4 linked regions of the Homo sapiens genome follow. The protein of the gene in region 3 binds, or shares a complex with, the protein of the main gene of each other region. Each region holds a gene or a part of one and is shown on either strand. Other genes may lie near its edges.

Evidence for each region.
Region 1: STX5 (region 3) and VTI1B share a complex: the UniProt entries of both Homo sapiens proteins name them as parts of the SNARE complex.
Region 2: STX5 (region 3) and BNIP1 share a complex: the UniProt entries of both Homo sapiens proteins name them as parts of the SNARE complex.
Region 4: STX5 (region 3) and VAMP7 share a complex: the UniProt entries of both Homo sapiens proteins name them as parts of the SNARE complex.

The regions. Positions count from the first base shown.
Region 1 is NC_000014.9:67,653,822-67,657,923, forward strand, and holds part of VTI1B (vesicle transport through interaction with t-SNAREs homolog 1B), read right to left. Parts: intron 2,769-4,102; coding exon 2,595-2,768; intron 1-2,594. UniProt on the Homo sapiens protein: V-SNARE that mediates vesicle transport pathways through interactions with t-SNAREs on the target membrane. These interactions are proposed to mediate aspects of the specificity of vesicle trafficking and to promote fusion of the lipid bilayers.
Region 2 is NC_000005.10:173,154,530-173,158,631, reverse strand, and holds part of BNIP1 (vesicle transport protein SEC20), read right to left. Parts: intron 1-4,102. UniProt on the Homo sapiens protein: As part of a SNARE complex may be involved in endoplasmic reticulum membranes fusion and be required for the maintenance of endoplasmic reticulum organization. Also plays a role in apoptosis.
Region 3 is NC_000011.10:62,811,537-62,815,638, forward strand, and holds part of STX5 (syntaxin-5), read right to left. Parts: intron 1-4,102. UniProt on the Homo sapiens protein: Mediates endoplasmic reticulum to Golgi transport.
Region 4 is NC_000023.11:155,940,064-155,944,590, reverse strand, and holds the end of VAMP7 (vesicle-associated membrane protein 7), read right to left. Parts: intron 2,709-4,527; coding exon 2,640-2,708; coding exon of another isoform or gene 2,452-2,639; 3' UTR 822-2,451; downstream 1-821. UniProt on the Homo sapiens protein: Involved in the targeting and/or fusion of transport vesicles to their target membrane during transport of proteins from the early endosome to the lysosome. Required for heterotypic fusion of late endosomes with lysosomes and homotypic lysosomal fusion.

The sequences.
Region 1 (4,102 bases), on a different chromosome or scaffold from region 3:
GAGCAACTTAAGATTTGAATTTCATCAGCCAAATTCCAGGACAGCCTCTTGAGTTGGCATTTGTTTTTGTAGGCTGGTCTGTTACTGCTTTTGGGATCTGGTTTTTTTCTTTACCCTCTTAAGAGACAGTTACATTGAACTGTGAAAAGAATTAACCTCCATGGAACTTTCAACTGCTTGCTACTAATCTGGACAGCTGGAGGATATTTCACCTCCAGCAGATGGCTACTTGCCATCTGTTCCCATTCCCCAGTGGCCTTGGTAAGCTGACCTCTCAGCTCGTTCCTTGGCTTTTATTTATTTGAAACAGGGTCTCACTCCGTCACTCAGGCTGGAGTGCAGTGCTGCAATCGCAGCTCACTGCAGCCTCGACCTCCCAGGCTCAAGCAATAACCCCACATGTCCCCAAGTAGCTGGGATCACAGGTGCACGCCACCACACCCTGCTCCTTTTTTTGATTTTTAGTAGAGATGAGGTCTCGCTATAGAGATGAGGTCTCGCTCTAGAGATGAGGTCTCGCTATGTTGCCCAGGCTGGTTTCAAACTCCTAGGCTCAAGCCATCCTCCCACCTCAGCCTCCCAAAGTGCTAAAATTACAGGTGTAAGCCCGGCCTCCTTGGCTTTTAAATTCAACCAATCTACCTGGTATGTTCAAAAACCAAAACCCACACAATCTGTAAGCAAGTTACATTCTCCATAGCTTGCCTTGAATGTAGTACTTTATTGTGAATTTTCACTGAAGAGGGCAGGGCATTACTCTGACTTAATGGAGAACTGAAGCTATTAAGAAAATCTACTCAAATCTTCACACTGAGCTAGTATTTTCCTGTCCAAATCTTGGCCACAGTATGTTTTTCAAATTGATTTGCCTTCTGCTATTAAGAATACAGCATTCCATTGGTAAATTGTACCAATTAAAAAATTTTGCCCGGGCGCAGTGGCTCACGCTTATAATTCTAGCACTTTGGGAGGCTGAGGCGGGCAGATCATGAGGTTAAGAGATCGAGACCATCCTTGCTAAAATGGTGAAACCCCGTCTCTACTAAAAATACGAAAAATTAGCCGGGTGTGGTGGCAGACGCCTGTAGTCCCAGCTACTCGGGAGGCCGAGGCAGGAGAATGGCATGAACCTGGGAGGCGGAGCTTGCAGCGAGCCGAGATTGCGCCACTGCACTCCAGCCTGGGCGACAGAGCAAGACTCCATCTCAAAAAAAAAAAAAAAAAAAAAAAAATTCCAGCTGGGCACAGTGGCTCATGCCTGTAATCCTAGCGCTTTGGGAGGCCAAGGTGGAATGATTGCTTGAGCCCAGGAGTTCGAGAGCAACTTTGGCAACATAATGAGACCCCGTTTTTACAAAAAATTAAAACAATTAGCCAGGCACAGTAGCACATGCCTGTATCGCAGCTACACATGAGGATCACTTGAGCCCAGGAGTTTGAAGCTACAGTAAGTTAAAATTGCACTGCTGCACTCCAGCCTGGGTGACAGAGCAAGACCCTGTCTCTAAAAAACTAAAAAATTCCTATGTAGGTTAACTCATTTATGGAAAGGAAAAAATAAATGAGTTATTTTTCTGAGGCTCTCAGAGTGACAGCAGACTAGAGATCCCTGATATAGTCATCATTTGATTTAAATATTTGTTTTCTTTCCACAATGATCCAGCTTACCTTACTGGATAATCCTTAGACATTTTTTTCCCTATTACTTTTTTTTTTTTACTTTTACTTACATAACAGTAAAGGGTTATAGTCCAGGATTGAAGCATAATTTATAAATCTATAAACTGTGGTACTATTTTATGAAATCTGGAAAACAGCCTTGGCTCTAAATAACAGGATATAAGCAGATGATGTTTTCGTAAGAATAGCAGAATACCCTATTAGATGTGTGAGAAATTAAAATCTCAGATTGGAAGCTTTGAATCCTTAAGTGCCTTTTGACATATTATTTCTCTTGCCAAAGAGAGAATGCAGCCACTTTATCCTTATTAATTTCTGTAATCTTGTAAGTGTAGAAATCAGGTCCTTCCATCTTTTTTTCCCCTCACTGAAGCAAAAATTTCCAGTGATGTCTAAATCTTAGGGGTAAAATTGCTTCTAAGGGACATCTCTCAGCCAAGCAAACTAAAAATTGAGCAAAGCGGCCGGGCACAGTGGCTCACGCCTATAATCCTAGCACTTTGGGAGGCCGGAGCAGGTGGATCACCTGAAGTTAGGAGTTCGAGACCAGCCTGGCCAACATGGCGAAACCCCATCTCTACTAAAAATACAAACATTAGCTAGGCATGGTGGCGCATGCCTGTAATCCCAGCTACTCAGGAGGCTGAGGCAAGAGAATCGCTTGAACCCAGGATGCGGAGGTTGCAGCAAGTGGAGATCACGCCACTGCACTCCAGCCTGGGTGACACAGTGAGACTCTATCTCAAAAAAAAAAAAAAAATTAATAAATAAAAATTGAGAAAAGCATAAGAACTTAAAAAAGACTATTCCCTGAATACAGAACTGCTGTAGCTTTTGGCCTTAGTACGGTTTCCAGGTGCAGTGGCCCCCTAATTACCCCATACTTGCCCCTTTCCCTGTCTGCCCAGACTTACTCTACTCTTGGTACGTTCTAACTGGTCTCGTTGTTCCCCCAGCTCTTCTATGATTTCTGAGCCAATCTGGTCAGTCTCTGTGGCAATCCGATGAGAACGTTCAATACTTTGGGTGGCCCGGTTCAGGCTTTCAGTGCCCTGCAGAAGCATTGCCCTTTGAGACTGTAGCCGATTCTGAAAGAAGTATGGAAGAGAAATGTTAGACTTTTTCCATTATAAATTCATTGCCAGCATATTCCTCATCACCTTCCCCATGTTAGAAGGGATATAGTGAGCAATAATTTTCATTCCTTTTAAGACAGAACCAAAGAAGCTAATGATTCTTTTCAAGGTCACAGACTAAAGCAGGACCTGAAATCCAATCAATAGGATCACAATACCCCCACTCCACTGCCTTTTACACTTACGCGAGGCAAGGAAAGATGGATTAAAAATACTGGAGCACTTTCCCTGTGTTTGTAATGAATCTGAACTGGTCCATGTGCCTCCTGGACTATCAACTTCTGAAAGGTGGCAGCCCAGATGTGGGAGCTACCTGATAATGCATATAGCCTGTAACTTCGATAGTGCTATGGGCAAACCAACTAAACTCTGCAGCCCTAGAAAAAGGTTAATTCACTGAAGATTCCCACTAGACTGGTACTGAGGATTGACGGACCATGAATAAGCTATTCTGTTCTTCGTTTTAAGCCTCCAGCACCTGGTATTTCCAGGTGGTCTCCCATCCAAGTACTAACCTGGCCTGACTCACTTGGCTTCTGAGATCAGGCAGGTTCAGAGTGGTATTGCCTAGATGACTACATTCTTCTTTTTCAGCTTCTAAAGAAAGCATGTAGAAGTCTGAGACACTACCACATTCTGGAAAAAACGTATGTGGTTACCCTCTTGGTGAGCCCCAGAAAGAACTTCACCTAAGGTCAAACAAAAAACCTTGAGCCTGCCACACTGGGGGTGATTTGGTCTCAGGGAAATTAGTATCTGGGGCTTGAGCAAGCTTCCCCACCTGCCCTAATTTCTCAACTGCCCTAATTTTCTAAATCCCCACCGAAGTTTTACTCCACCTGTAATCCTAAATACAGACAGCAGGAAGAAAAAAGTAGCCTTGTCAGGCCAGAATTAACAACCACTGACAGAAACGGAGGCAGCTCCAAGTTCTTAGCTGTTCAAAGCACGCGCGCGCGTGCACACACACACACACACACACACACCCAAAATCAAAAGGGACCCAGCTCACAGAGGCCTAGTACAGAGCAAGTGACCACTGGCAGTAGGACCATCAAGGAGCCAAAAGATTGGCTCCCAGAACAGAAGTAGCAAGGAGCATTTTCTTTCTTTCTTTTTTTTTTTTTTTTTGAGACAGTCTCGCTCTGTCGCCCGGGCTGGAGTGGAGTGGCAAGATCTCAGCTCACTGCAGCCTCTGCCTCCCGGGCACAAGCAATTCTGCTGCCTCAGCCTCCCAAGTAACTGGGATTACAGGCACCCGCCACCACGCCCAGCTAATTTTTGTA
Region 2 (4,102 bases), on a different chromosome or scaffold from region 3:
GCCTTCAGAGCCCATCCCACCTCCTGCCACTTCCGCCTCCTGGTTCCCCAGCAACTGTTCTTGCTCAGGTCCTGATACCCCTTGACCGGACCCTGGAGGTCGCCACGGGGAGGCTCTGTTGCTGTCACTCTGCCCCCGTCAGCCCAAGGGGCTGTGAACATGGCACTCCTCTGTGCACAGCTCCACAATGGCTGGACTTCAGGGAGGCATCCAAACTTCCCAGCTGGTCACACAAGGCCCCTCTTCAGTCCAGTTGCCTCTAAGGCTGTACTGCTATGGCCTGTGTATTAATTGGTACCATCCCCGGAGAACCATGACTTACTCATCTCCAGTATCTTGAACAACCATTTCTGGCCCTTCAGCTGCTGAGTTAATATACTTTGTAGGAAATAAAAAATCGTGGCCAGGCACAGTGGTTCACACCTGTAATCATAGCACTTTAGGAGGCCGAGGTGGGGGGATCACTTGAGCCCAGGAGTTCAAGACCAGCCTGGGCAACATGGAGAAACCCCGTCTCTACTAAAAATACAAAAAATTAGCCAGGCATGGTGGTGGCGCATGCCTGTGGTTCCAGCTACCCAGGAGGCGGAGGAGCGAAGATCACCTGAGCCTGGGAAGTGGAGGTTGCAGTGAGCCGTGATAGTACCACTATACTCCAGCCTGGGTGACAGAGTAAGACCTTCTCTCAAGAAAAAAAAAAAAAAACACACACACACACACAAAAAGCCAATCTTTCAAAATATTTCTTCAAGGTTTGTTGTTCTTTCCATACTACAGACCAATCATGAATGACACAAACATGATGGATTAGCAGAGCCCTGACTGACACGGCGGATCTACAGTCTTCACCTGCGCTAACTTGTGGGTGATAACGGAAAGTTGGTGAACAGCTTCCTGGAGTTAGAAATGTGACAGTTGACCGGGCGTGGTGGCTCACATCTGTAATCCCAACACTTTGAGAGGCCGAGGCGGGTGGGTCACTTGAGGTCAGGAGTTCGAGACCAGCCTGGCCAACATGTTAAAACCCTGTCTCTACTAAAAATACAAAAATTAGCTGGACATGATGGCGAGTGCCTGTAATCCCAGCTACTCGGGAGTCTGAGGCAGGAAAATCACTTGAATCTAGGAGGCAGAGGTTGCAGTGAGCCAAGATCACGCCACTGCACTCCAGCCTGGGCAATGAGAGTAAGACTCCGTCTCAAAAAAAAAAAGAAATGTTGACAGTTGTTGATAGACTATAAAAAAGCTAACTGCGTCTCTCTAAGAATCAAACTCATACTTCAGAACTCTTATGTAGCCAGCTCAAACCAATTGTGCTAATCTCTGGAAATACTCAAAAATCAAAACACAGAGTACATGAACTGACAGGGTGGTTTTCTAATAGCACCTTTATGCTGAAGGTCTTAATGAGCACCTGCTCCGCCATTTCACACCTGCCACTTTAAAGAATCCATTACATTTTGAAACAGTTTGCAAGGGGGTTCTGCAGGACCCTGGGATCCAGAGATGAATGAGGGGCAGTACTTCTCCTCAACCACCTCACATTCATTTGGGAAAAAGACAAGCAAACAGATACTCACTGTATGGTGTGACAAGCATGATGACCCAAGCAAGCACAACTACTGCTTCAACTGCCAAAGTTGGTTTTTTTTGTTTTTTTTGTTTTTTTTTTGAGACAGGGTCGGCTGGGCACGGTGCCTCACGCCTGTAATCCCAGCACTTTGGGAGGCTGAGACCGGCGGATCATGAGGGTCAGGTGATCGAGACCGTCCTGGCTAACACGGAGAAACCCCATCTCTACTAAAAATATAAAAAATGAGCCAGGCGTGGTGGCGGGTGCCTGTAGTCCCAGCTACTCGGAGAGGCTGAGGCAGGAGAATGGCGTGAACCCGGGAGGTGGAGCTTGCAGTGAGCCGAGATTGCGCCACTGCACTCCAGCCTGGGTGACAGAGTGAGACTCTGTCTCAAAAAAAAAAAAAAACAAAAGAAAAGAGGCAGGGTCTCGTTCTGTCTCCTAGGCCAGGTGCAGTCACATGATCACGGCTCACTGCAGCCTTGACCTCCCGAGCCCACTGCCCTCCTGCCTTGGCCTCCCAAGTAGTTGAGACTACAGGCACACATCAGCATGCCCCCAGCTAATTTTTTTTTTTTTTAATAGATGAGGTTTTGCTTTGTTGCCCAGGATGGTCTTAAACTCCTGGGCTCAAGCAGTCCTCCTGCCTCGGCCCCCGAAGTGCTGGGATTATAGGTGTGAGCTACTGCACATAGCCCCAAAGTATAAATTGACAGCTTTCTCTGCTCTGGCCTGTAATGCTACATTGTGGATGGCCATTCCCAGCTTTAAACCCATGCTAAGCTGAGTGTGTCTGGCATAACTTACCATACTTTATACAAGGGCTCCTCTGTACTCAGTGTTTATAATCTGAGTAGGCTTGGTGGCTCAGGAAAGCAAAAGCCATCATAACATAAAGTATTCGTGAAATAGCCAAGCCCTGGATCACTGCCCACCACTCATACAGCCCTCCCTGCTTACACTGGCCTCCCTGTGCCTGTGTTTTTGCCAGTCGGTGTCTTCCTGACAGCTGACTGTTACATACACAGCTGCTTGCAGGGAAGATGATGCTGGCAAATTGCTCAAATCAGAAGCAAAGCCACAAATACAGATCTGGCAGAGGCAGACCAGTGAACAAGAGACAAAGAGAAAACCCATGGGAATGACAACTTAGCAGGGGTTTCAAAAGAGAATGATTTAGCCAGGCACGGTGGAGTGTGCTGTAGTCCCAACTACTTGGGAAGCTGAGGTGAGAGGATCGCTTGAGCCCAGGAGTTCCTGAGGCTGCAGTAAGCTATGACTGTACTCCAGACTGGGCAACAGAGAAGGACCTCATTTCCAAAATTTTTTAATTTTTTAAAAATAAAAATATTTTTTTTTTGTTTTTAAGGTGGAGTCTCACTCTGTCACCCAGGCTGGAGTGCAGCAATCTCGGCTCACTGCAACCTCTGCCTCCCGGGCTCAAGCGATTCTCCTGCCTCAGCCTCCCGAGTAGCTGGGATTACAGGTGTGTGCCACCACACCCGGCTAATTTTTGTATTTTTAGTAGAGAGGGGTTTCACCATGTTGGTCAAGCTGGTCTCGAACTCCTGACCTCATGATCTGCCCACCTCGGCCTCCCAAAGCGCTGGGATTCCAGGCGTGAGCCGCCGCACTGGGCCAAAAATGTATTTTTAAAAAAGAGAGAGAATGATCTGAATACCTCAAATATGTTTGGAAAAACCCTCTTTATGATTGGTACAAAAGTCAAATGTGAAGGGAAAGATACTGTTTCATGTTGTCTGACAATTTCATTGGAAAAGTTAAACCTCTCCCAATTCAATAACAAGAAATGGCATATAACTGTAACTATATAATCAAGGATTAGCACACACCTGCAATTACAACCTCGATTTTGGTTTTAATTTTTGACCTCAATTTTGTTTAATTTACGGTTTTTCTTGCATTTTATTTTATTTTATTTTTAGACAGCATCCCACTCAAAACCTTCTAAATTTTGGTCCACCTTCAGCAGGTTTTCTTTCTGTAGATTTTTTCTGGTACCAATTATCCTTAGATAAAAAATGACCCTGTATTACAAAAGCAATCATATTTTTTGATTAAAAATATACAATACAGTATAATGTTAAATATGCTTTTGTAAACTATGTTCAGCTCCACCTGCTCAGATAGGCCCTATTTATCCCTTCCCCACTCGCCCCCACTTGACTATTGCTGACTGAGAGAGAACATTCCACCAGTGTGTAACTGATGCAATTGGCTGGGCGTGGTTGCTCACACCTGTAATCCCAGCACTTTGGGAAGCCAAGGTGGGTGAATCACATGAGGCCAGTGTTAGAGACCAGCCTGGCCAACACAGCGAAACTCTGTCTCTAGTAAAAATACAAAAATTAGCCAGGCGTGATGGTGGGCGCCTGTAATCCCAGCTACTCAGGAGGCTGAGGCAGAAGAATTGCTTGAACTCGGGAGGCAGAGGTCACAGTGAGCCAAGATCAGGCCACTGCACTCCAGCCTGGGCAATAGAGCGAGACACCGTCTCTCAAAAAAAAA
Region 3 (4,102 bases):
GAACAGCTTCTCCTTTCCCCTTTTTGGGCTGGCATTCCCTCCAAGTCTTAGCTTGGTATCACTTCTGGGAAGGCCCCTTGGCCCCATCTAGGAGCAGTACCTACTCTGAGTTCTCTCATCCCTTTTTTTTTTTTTTTAATAGACACGGGGTCTCTGTGTTGCACAGGCTTTCTTGAACTGCTGGCCTCAAGTAATCTGCCTCGGCCTCCCAAAGTGCTAGGATTACAGGGATGAGCCACCACACCCAGCCTCATCCCCTTCTCTTCTTGCCCTATCATACTGAGCTGTCACTGTCAACTTATGTCTCTCCTACTAGTGAGCTCCAGGAGGACCAGAATGGTCTTTCACCCTTTTATCCTCAGACCCAGCAGGATTAGCTCACAGCAGCAACAAATGTTTGCTAAACCAATGAGCAAACACATGCTAACAGTGAAAAATACTTATGACACTGTTTCAAGGAAGACTAGAATGTAAAGTTGCCTATATGCTATAACTTTATTTTAGATGTATATGGATTGAGGAAAGAACTCAAATACCTTTTTTTTTTTTTTTTTTTTTGAGATGGAGTTTTGCTCTTGTTGCCCAGGCTGGAGTGCAATGGTGCGATCTCAGCTCACAGCAACCTCCGCCTCCCGGGTTCAAACCATTCTCCTGCCTCAGCCTCCAGAGTAGCTGGGATTACAGGCATGCGCCACCATGCCTGGCTAATTTTGTATTTTTAGTAGAGACAGGGTTTCTCCATGTTGGTCAGGCTGGTTTCAAACTCTGGACCTCAGGTGGTCCGCCCGCCTCGGCCTCCCAAAGTGCTGGGATTACAGGCATGAGCCACTGCGCCTGGCCCTCCATATCTTTTATAATTCTGTTTCACTGACTCTATAATATTCTTTTTTTTGGAAACGGTGTCTCACTCTGTTGCCCAGGTTGGAGTGCAGTGGCGTGTGGCGTGATCTGGGCTCACTGCAAGCTCCGCCTCCTGGGTTCACGCCATTCTCCTGCCTCAGCCTCCCTAGTAGCTGGGACTACAGGCGCCGGTCACCACACCCGGCTAATTTTTTTGTATTTTTTTTAGTAGAGATGGGGTTTCACCGTGTTAGCCAGGATGGTCTCGATCTCCTGACCTCGTGATTCGCCTGTCTCGCCTCCCAAAGAGCTGAGATTACAGGCGTGAGCCACCACGCCCAGACTTAATATTCTAATATTCAAAATACAACATAGCTCAGGGAGCTATGGTGTTTATGGCATAATTCTGCAAGGGGTTCCCTAGGTCTCAGCTGAAATAGATAAAAATCAATTAGGCCGGGTGCGGTGGCTCACGCCTGTAATCCCAGCACTTTGGGAGGCCGAGGTGGGCGGATCACGAGGTCTAGGAGTTCAAGACCAGCCTGGCCAATATGGTGACACCCCATCTCTACTAAAAATACAAAAATTATCCGGACATGGTGGCTCGTGCCTGTAGTCCCAGCTACTTGGGAGGCTGAGGCAGAAGAATCATTTGAACCCAGGAGGCGGAGGTTGCCACTGCACTCCAGCCTGGGTGGCAGAGTGAGACTCCGTCTCAAAAAAAAAAAAAAAAAAAATCAGTCAATTATTAGCCAGGCATGGTGGTGCATGCCTGTAATCCCAGCTACTCGGGAGGCTGAGGCAGGAGAATCACTTGAACCTGGGAGGAAGGGGTTGCAGTGAGCCAAGATAATGCCACTGCACTGCAGCCTGGGTGACAGAGTGAGACTGTCTCAAACAAACAACAACAAAAAAAATCAGTCAATTCTCCTGACTCTAGGATCAAGACAGCTGTACTCACGGTACCTTATAAATGGCTGGTGCTCAACATATAGTAGTTGAATAAACAAACTTTCTTTTAATCAGTAGTTCCCAAACCTGGATGCTCATCAGAACCCCCTATGGAATTTGTAAAAATGAAGCTCCCTGAAAAGCCCACTCCATTCACATCTCTCGAATCAGAATCTCCAAGTGTTTTCTTTTACCTTGGCCAGTTAAATGTGTGAGGCTGCTTAGTGGATTGATGTTCAGAAACCGGCTTTATACAAATGTAGGTGTTCACTCAGTTTCACATGATCAACAACGTAGAGTAAAAGCACTCTGCTAGATACCGTGGGGAATAAAGATCAATCAGGGTTGGACCCTGCTAAAGGGATAAGATCAAGTGGGCAGGAGTGGATTCCTAAAACCTCCTACACCTCCTCTCCTCTACTGGCTTTTCTTCTTAATGAGCTGAGAAGACTGAAGTGGTCTGAAGATAAATGCCGCTCCACCCCGAGCATTGCTACAATAGCCTCTGTCTTCCCACCTATCGCCAGCTCCTCTTAGAGCCAAGCCTTGATTTATGCCCCGGAGCCCACTTCCTTTCACCTTCTCAAGGACATCATTTCAAGAATTCTCCCATCTTTCTCCTATATTATCATTTTTAAATTTATCCGTTGCATCATTTCCATTGGCATGCTAACATACCTTTATTTTCTCTCAGCCTTTTAAACCCTCTAGGCTCCCACCAGACATATTTGGAACAACTTGAGCACTCACAATAATCATTGCCCTAACTAATAATAAGACAACCAATACATTAAAACCTATAATTAAAGCCTATAGCGATGCTCAGAAAAGAGGAAGAATTTAATTAATTTACTTGAGATGGAGTTTCGCTCTTGTTGCTCAGGATGAAGTGCAATGGCACAACCTTGGCTCATTGCAACCTCCACCTCCTGGGTTCAAGTGATTTTAGTGCCTCAGCCTCCCAAGTAGCTAGCATTACAGGCATGCACCACCACGCCCTAATTTTGTATTTTTGGCAGAGATGGGTTTCACCATGTTGATCAGCCTGGTCTCGAACTCCCGACCTTAGGTGATCCACCCACTTCTGCCTCCCAAAGTGCTGGGATTACAGGTGTGAGCCACCGCACCCGGGACTCTTCCTTTTTTTTTTTTTAGATAAGAGTCTCACTCTGTTGCCCAGGCTGGAGTGCAACGGCGTGATCTCGGCTCACCCAACTTCCGCCTCCCAGGTTCAAGAGATTCTCCTGCCTCAGCATGCCAAATAGTTGGGATTACAGGCAGGTGCCACCACGCTCAGCTAATTTTTTTTTTTTTTTTGAGATGGAGTTTCGCTCGTTGCCCAGGCTGGAGTGTAATGGCGCAATCTTGGCTCACCGCAACCGCTGCCTCCCGGGTTCAGGTGATTTTCCTGCATGCGCCACCACGCTCAGCAAATTTTGTGTTTTTAGTAGAAACGGGGTTGCTCCATGTTGGTCAGGCTGGTCTCCAGCTCCCGACCTCAGGTGATCCGCCTGCCTCGGCCTCCCAGAGTGCTGGGATTACAGGTGTGAGCCACTATGCCTGGCTTTCTGATTTAATATTTAAAAAGCTATTAAACAGTTTGGGGACAACTGGGAAAATGTAAACCCTCACTGGATATCACATATTAGGAAATAGTTAATTCTAACAGATAGGATAACTGGGTGTCTTTTTTTTTTTTGAGATGGAGTCTTGCTCTCTTGCCAGGCTGCAGTGCAGTGGTACGATCTCGGCTCACTGAAACCTACACCTCCCAGGTTCAAGCGATTCTCCTGCCTCAGCCTCCCGAGTAGCTGGGACTACAGGCACGCAGCACCACGCCCAGTTAATTTTTCTGTTTTCAGTAGAGATGGGGTTTCACCATGTTGGCCAAGATGGTCTTGATCTCTTGAGCTTGTGATCCGCCCGCCTTGGCCTCCCAAAGTACTGGGATTACAGGCATGAGCCACCATGCCCAGCCAACCGGGTGTGGTTTTTATTTTATTTATTTTTTATTTTTTAGGACAGAGTATCGCTCTGTCGTAACACTCACTGGATAATACATAATATTAGGAAATCATTAATTTTCACAGACATAACTGGGTGTGGTTTTTATTTTTTGAGACAGAGTATCACTCTGTTGTGACACTCACTGAATAATACATAATATTAGGAAATCGCTAATTTTCATAGATAGGATAACGGCGTGGTTTTTTTTTTTTTATTTTTTGAGACAGAGTCTCGCTCTGTCGCCCAGGCTGGAGTGCAGTGGCACAATCTCGGCTCACTGCAACCTCTGCCTCCCAGGTTCAAG
Region 4 (4,527 bases), on a different chromosome or scaffold from region 3:
AGAGTCAAGCAAGAAGAAACCATTATCTAAAGGCACCTACATTCACTATTAAGGAAACTTTTGGATTGTAACACTGTTTTTTTTTTTGCCAAGGGTTTGAAGTAAAGAGAAATAGCTGGTGTCACTTCTTTCTTTATTCATAACCAAATAAATAACCATCTTTTATTTTTCTCTAAGTGTCTGTTAGAGAATGCACATTTCAGTTGAAATCTGGATAAAACCTAGGGAGAACTTAAATAGGCTGTTTTTAAGTTATTGCAGCCTGTACAAAAATATATTCTATACCTGACTTTAGCCACCTTACGTTCAGAGGTCCCAAGTGACTGATTATTTTGTTGTGACCTATCTATTTGTATATTTGATTTGTGCCTGTTTTTCTTTTATTTCTGTTTAGGTACCCTGTTTGCTATAATGAATTATTCCCTCCCACCATTATGCCTTCCGCTTGAGTCTCTTTCAGAACCAGTCATTTAACTTTAGATAGAAAGATTTTTCAGAATTGTGCTAAACTGGATGAAAATCCCTGGGGTTCTTTTTCAGTTCTGTCTAAATCATGCACTCAGGACGATAGTTGTGAAGGCTGTGTGATCATCTCAGAATCTTTCATTGGTTTCAGCATGGGCTATATATTTTTTAAGTTCATTTGTGTCTTTTGAAGAAATTCTACACACCTGAGACTATGCTACAGATCTTTACTGGAAGTCTCCAGGTAACACTTCTTAATATATTTTCCGCATAAGTAAAATACTTTTGTTCTGTAAACAATGGCAAATGTCATCAGAAGAAATTAGGTTCCAGAAAGAACTTCTAAAACAAGCAAATCATTGTATTACTCTTAAATTTTATTAACATCTTCAGTTTGTGCGTCATTTAAAATGAGACATGTGCTTTAAAAAGCATTCTTATACATAAATAGACCAAGGAACAGTTAGGTAATTGATCCCTAAAACATGCACATCAATTTTATTCAGGTGTGTATAAGAAAGGGAAATAAGCTTTAAACCTTTTTCTTTGGATTAAAAACATTTGGAAATTATTCAGGAATGCCAAATGTTTTTCTGGAACAGATGTATTTTCCAATAGGAAATACTGATGCAATTAAGAGGCATTAGTGTTGATAAAGAAGACTGGAAAAACGTTTGTGCTATGCTAGATAAACAAGAAAAGAGTTCAAGTGGGCCTAAGATCTATGTCAAATAAATGAATCAGGTAGCATGAATTGAAAGGTTTGGATAGAAGAACAGGTACCATGAGCCAGATTATGGGACACATATATGTTCAAGGCACATGACTAGGCTAAACAGGTGGCTAGATTCTACAGACTAATTTGTTCATTCATTGAGAAAGTGTAAAATGTAATATAATTTCAATTTAATGGCACTTATTGATAAATAAATGCAATTGGATCTAGGGTAGAAAATGTCTTCCTTTCAGATACACACCAGAAATGCATACTAGATAACAGATGCCAGTAGCGATATGATTACAGTCCAATTTTCTTACACTGCAGTTAAATGGTTGTTAAACTGTTTTGTATTAATTCTATATGTCATACTGTCTATTCTCTTTCAAGTTTCACAAAAGAATTCATCAAAACTAGGCAGATTTAAGAATTTATTTAACCACAAAGAATGCTCAAAACTATTATTCAACAGGAATCAAGCCCAAACCCTGGAGTTGACTGCTGACCGTATTCGGTTTGGGCTTTTCCCAGAATGGAAACACTTTTCCCACACTACCTCCCTTTGCACAGCTAAAATGCTAGCATATCCACTGTGGTTCCCTTCTTTTTCTTTGGCAAGTCAGAGGAATTTACCTCCCCACCCCCTCTACTACATATTCTATTAGCGACACGATTGCCCTAAATATTCACAGAAGAAAAAGGAACACATTTAAAAAACTGCAACTTTCAACAATATTTAAACCTTCATCTTCTCAAATCAACTGCAATGGGAAAACAGAAGATATCAAGCTATCCACTGTATTGTGAATGATCAGCACACTGAACTTTATTCCTGAAAGTCAATATTAGGAGGACAAGGATAATTCTGTGTGCTTCTAATGGGCTAGCAAAATGTTCCCCATCTAACTGAAATAAGAATGTTTCATACTTTACTTGTCTGAGCTCTTAGAAGGAAGCAGCACCAACATCATTACAATTCCCCAAATAACAACTATTATCCATTTATATTGTTTTGAAGCACCTAAAACTTCTCAATAACAAAAGACATTAAGATGAGATGTTAGCAATACTGTCTCTTGAATACTTTTGTGTGCACATACAAAGTTTCTCCATAGTTTTAGTAGATAGCTCATAAGACTAGCGGCGACAGCTTTGAGCAATTAAAAACAAAAATGTTTCTCTAAATAGATGACACTAGTTAACAAACCAAAGAAATAAACAAAAGCCTTTTTAAGGCTACTGCTGCAATGAATGGTTCAATCTGAAGTTCACAGGAATAAACTGGTAGATAAGACAAAGATAAACCTGGAGGCATGGAACAAGATTTTAAAAAGTGAGAAGAGGGTTGAAGAGACTGGCAGATACCATCTGTCAGTATGTGAAAGGCTTGAGTCACATGGATTGCTTTTAACTCCTTGTTCTCTCATATCCTTGGTTAATGGTAACTTCTTCTTTCCTATTTCTTCACACAGCTTGGCCATGTAAATCCACCACAGAGAGGTGAAACAATGATATAGATGAACACCTGGAGGGACGAGGAGAGCAATTTTATTTTCTTGAATCAATCATATTATTCTAAATAATATATATAGGAAAGTAGAGCCTTATTAAGAAATACTTCTGATTCCATTAGAGTAGCAGTTATGTAGTAATGGAACACACTAAACAAGTATTTTCCAAGACAGAAGTGTAGTTAACATTGTCGTTTTTGGTATAACTCACACCCACTTGAACTCTAGCGTTTCCTTCAGTGGGAGAGAAAGCAGTGGGGTTGTTGCTCTTCACTGGTAACTCGGCAGAATCAAGGCTAAATGAGCAACTCATACTGATGTGTCATTAACAAGTCATAAAAAAATCACAAATAACCATAATTCTCCTGAAGTATGGTTTCATTAATTATATTTTTAGGTTTTGCACATGAATTTTATTTTTGATTAATATAAGAATATATTTTAAAAGCCTGAGTAGAAGGCTTTCATCTATATCACTTATGAGCAAGAACACTGCTACGAACTGTTCAGTGGATAATGACACAATAATTACGATGACCAAAACAATGAAAAGCAGATGATGTAAGTAACACTGCAAAAATACTGGTGCTATTACAGATGTGTTTGCTTTTTAATTCTAGATTATAATTTTAAATTATATTATAAAAGTCACTACTTGTTCACATTATTATATCACAAAAAATAGATTTTAAACATTAGGTTCACTGCATTAGTCACTTTATTTTATTTATTTTTTATTTTTTATTTTTGTAGAGATAGGGTGTCACTATGTTGACCAGGCTGGCTTCAAACTCTTGGCCTCAAGCAATCCTCCTGCCTCAGCTTCCCAAAGTGCTGGGATTACAGGCATAAGCCCCTATGCCTGGCTTTATTTTGCTTTAAATTACAACTTTTTGAGATCTTTAAGTGACTGATTTCATTATTTGCAAGCTTGGAAAAGGATGCATTGATGAATTGCATGCCCTTTGCTCCAAAAGTGAGCAAAGCATTTTGCCTTGTAGGGAACTATAAATATTGCCAGGGTTGGGGGGCAGATTACAGCAAATTCTGTTTATTAATGAATAGGTTGAACTTCTGACATCATATTCACACATACACACACATACTCACACATACACATGCCACAAATGTAAAGTTTACCAACTTGATGTAAAGTTGACTATTTGTCACAGCTGTAATATAAGGATTTTTCAAGCTGAAGTACATCTCGTTAGGTGACAACACCTTTTCGCAAAGATTGATATTGCATTTAGAGCTGTGCTCTGCATGTAATAAGTAATCAGTAAATATATTCTGAATTTAACAATTCAGCTGCACAAATCAACCTAAACTCCCAGACCAAATAATAAGTAAGAAGCTAAGCTCAGGAGCCTAAAATGTGATATTAGAAAGAGAAACCTGAGCAAGGAACCATTCAAGGCCATGACAATTACTTCCAGTATAAAATCTACAGATCTATGACTGCTCTTCTCTTTTAGATAAATCCAGCTGTCTAAGGCAGAGGACCCTCAAGCTGTGGTAGAGGAGAAGCAGGGTCAGAGTTATCTGCTTGGAGGTAACTTTGGGCTTCTGGACATGACTGGAGGATGGGGAGGAAAGGCAACTTTATCTGACCATGAACAGGGTAAAGCACCCCCCACCTGTTAGCAATAGTTTTTAAAGTTGTGGTTTAGGACCTCTTTACACACTCAAAAATTACTGAGGACTCCAAAGAGTTCTTGTTTAAGGGGGATTATAATTATCAGCATTTGCCATATTAGAAATTAAAACTTTAAAAATACATAATTAATTTAAAAATAAAAACAATAAACCCATTACATATAAACCAGAAAT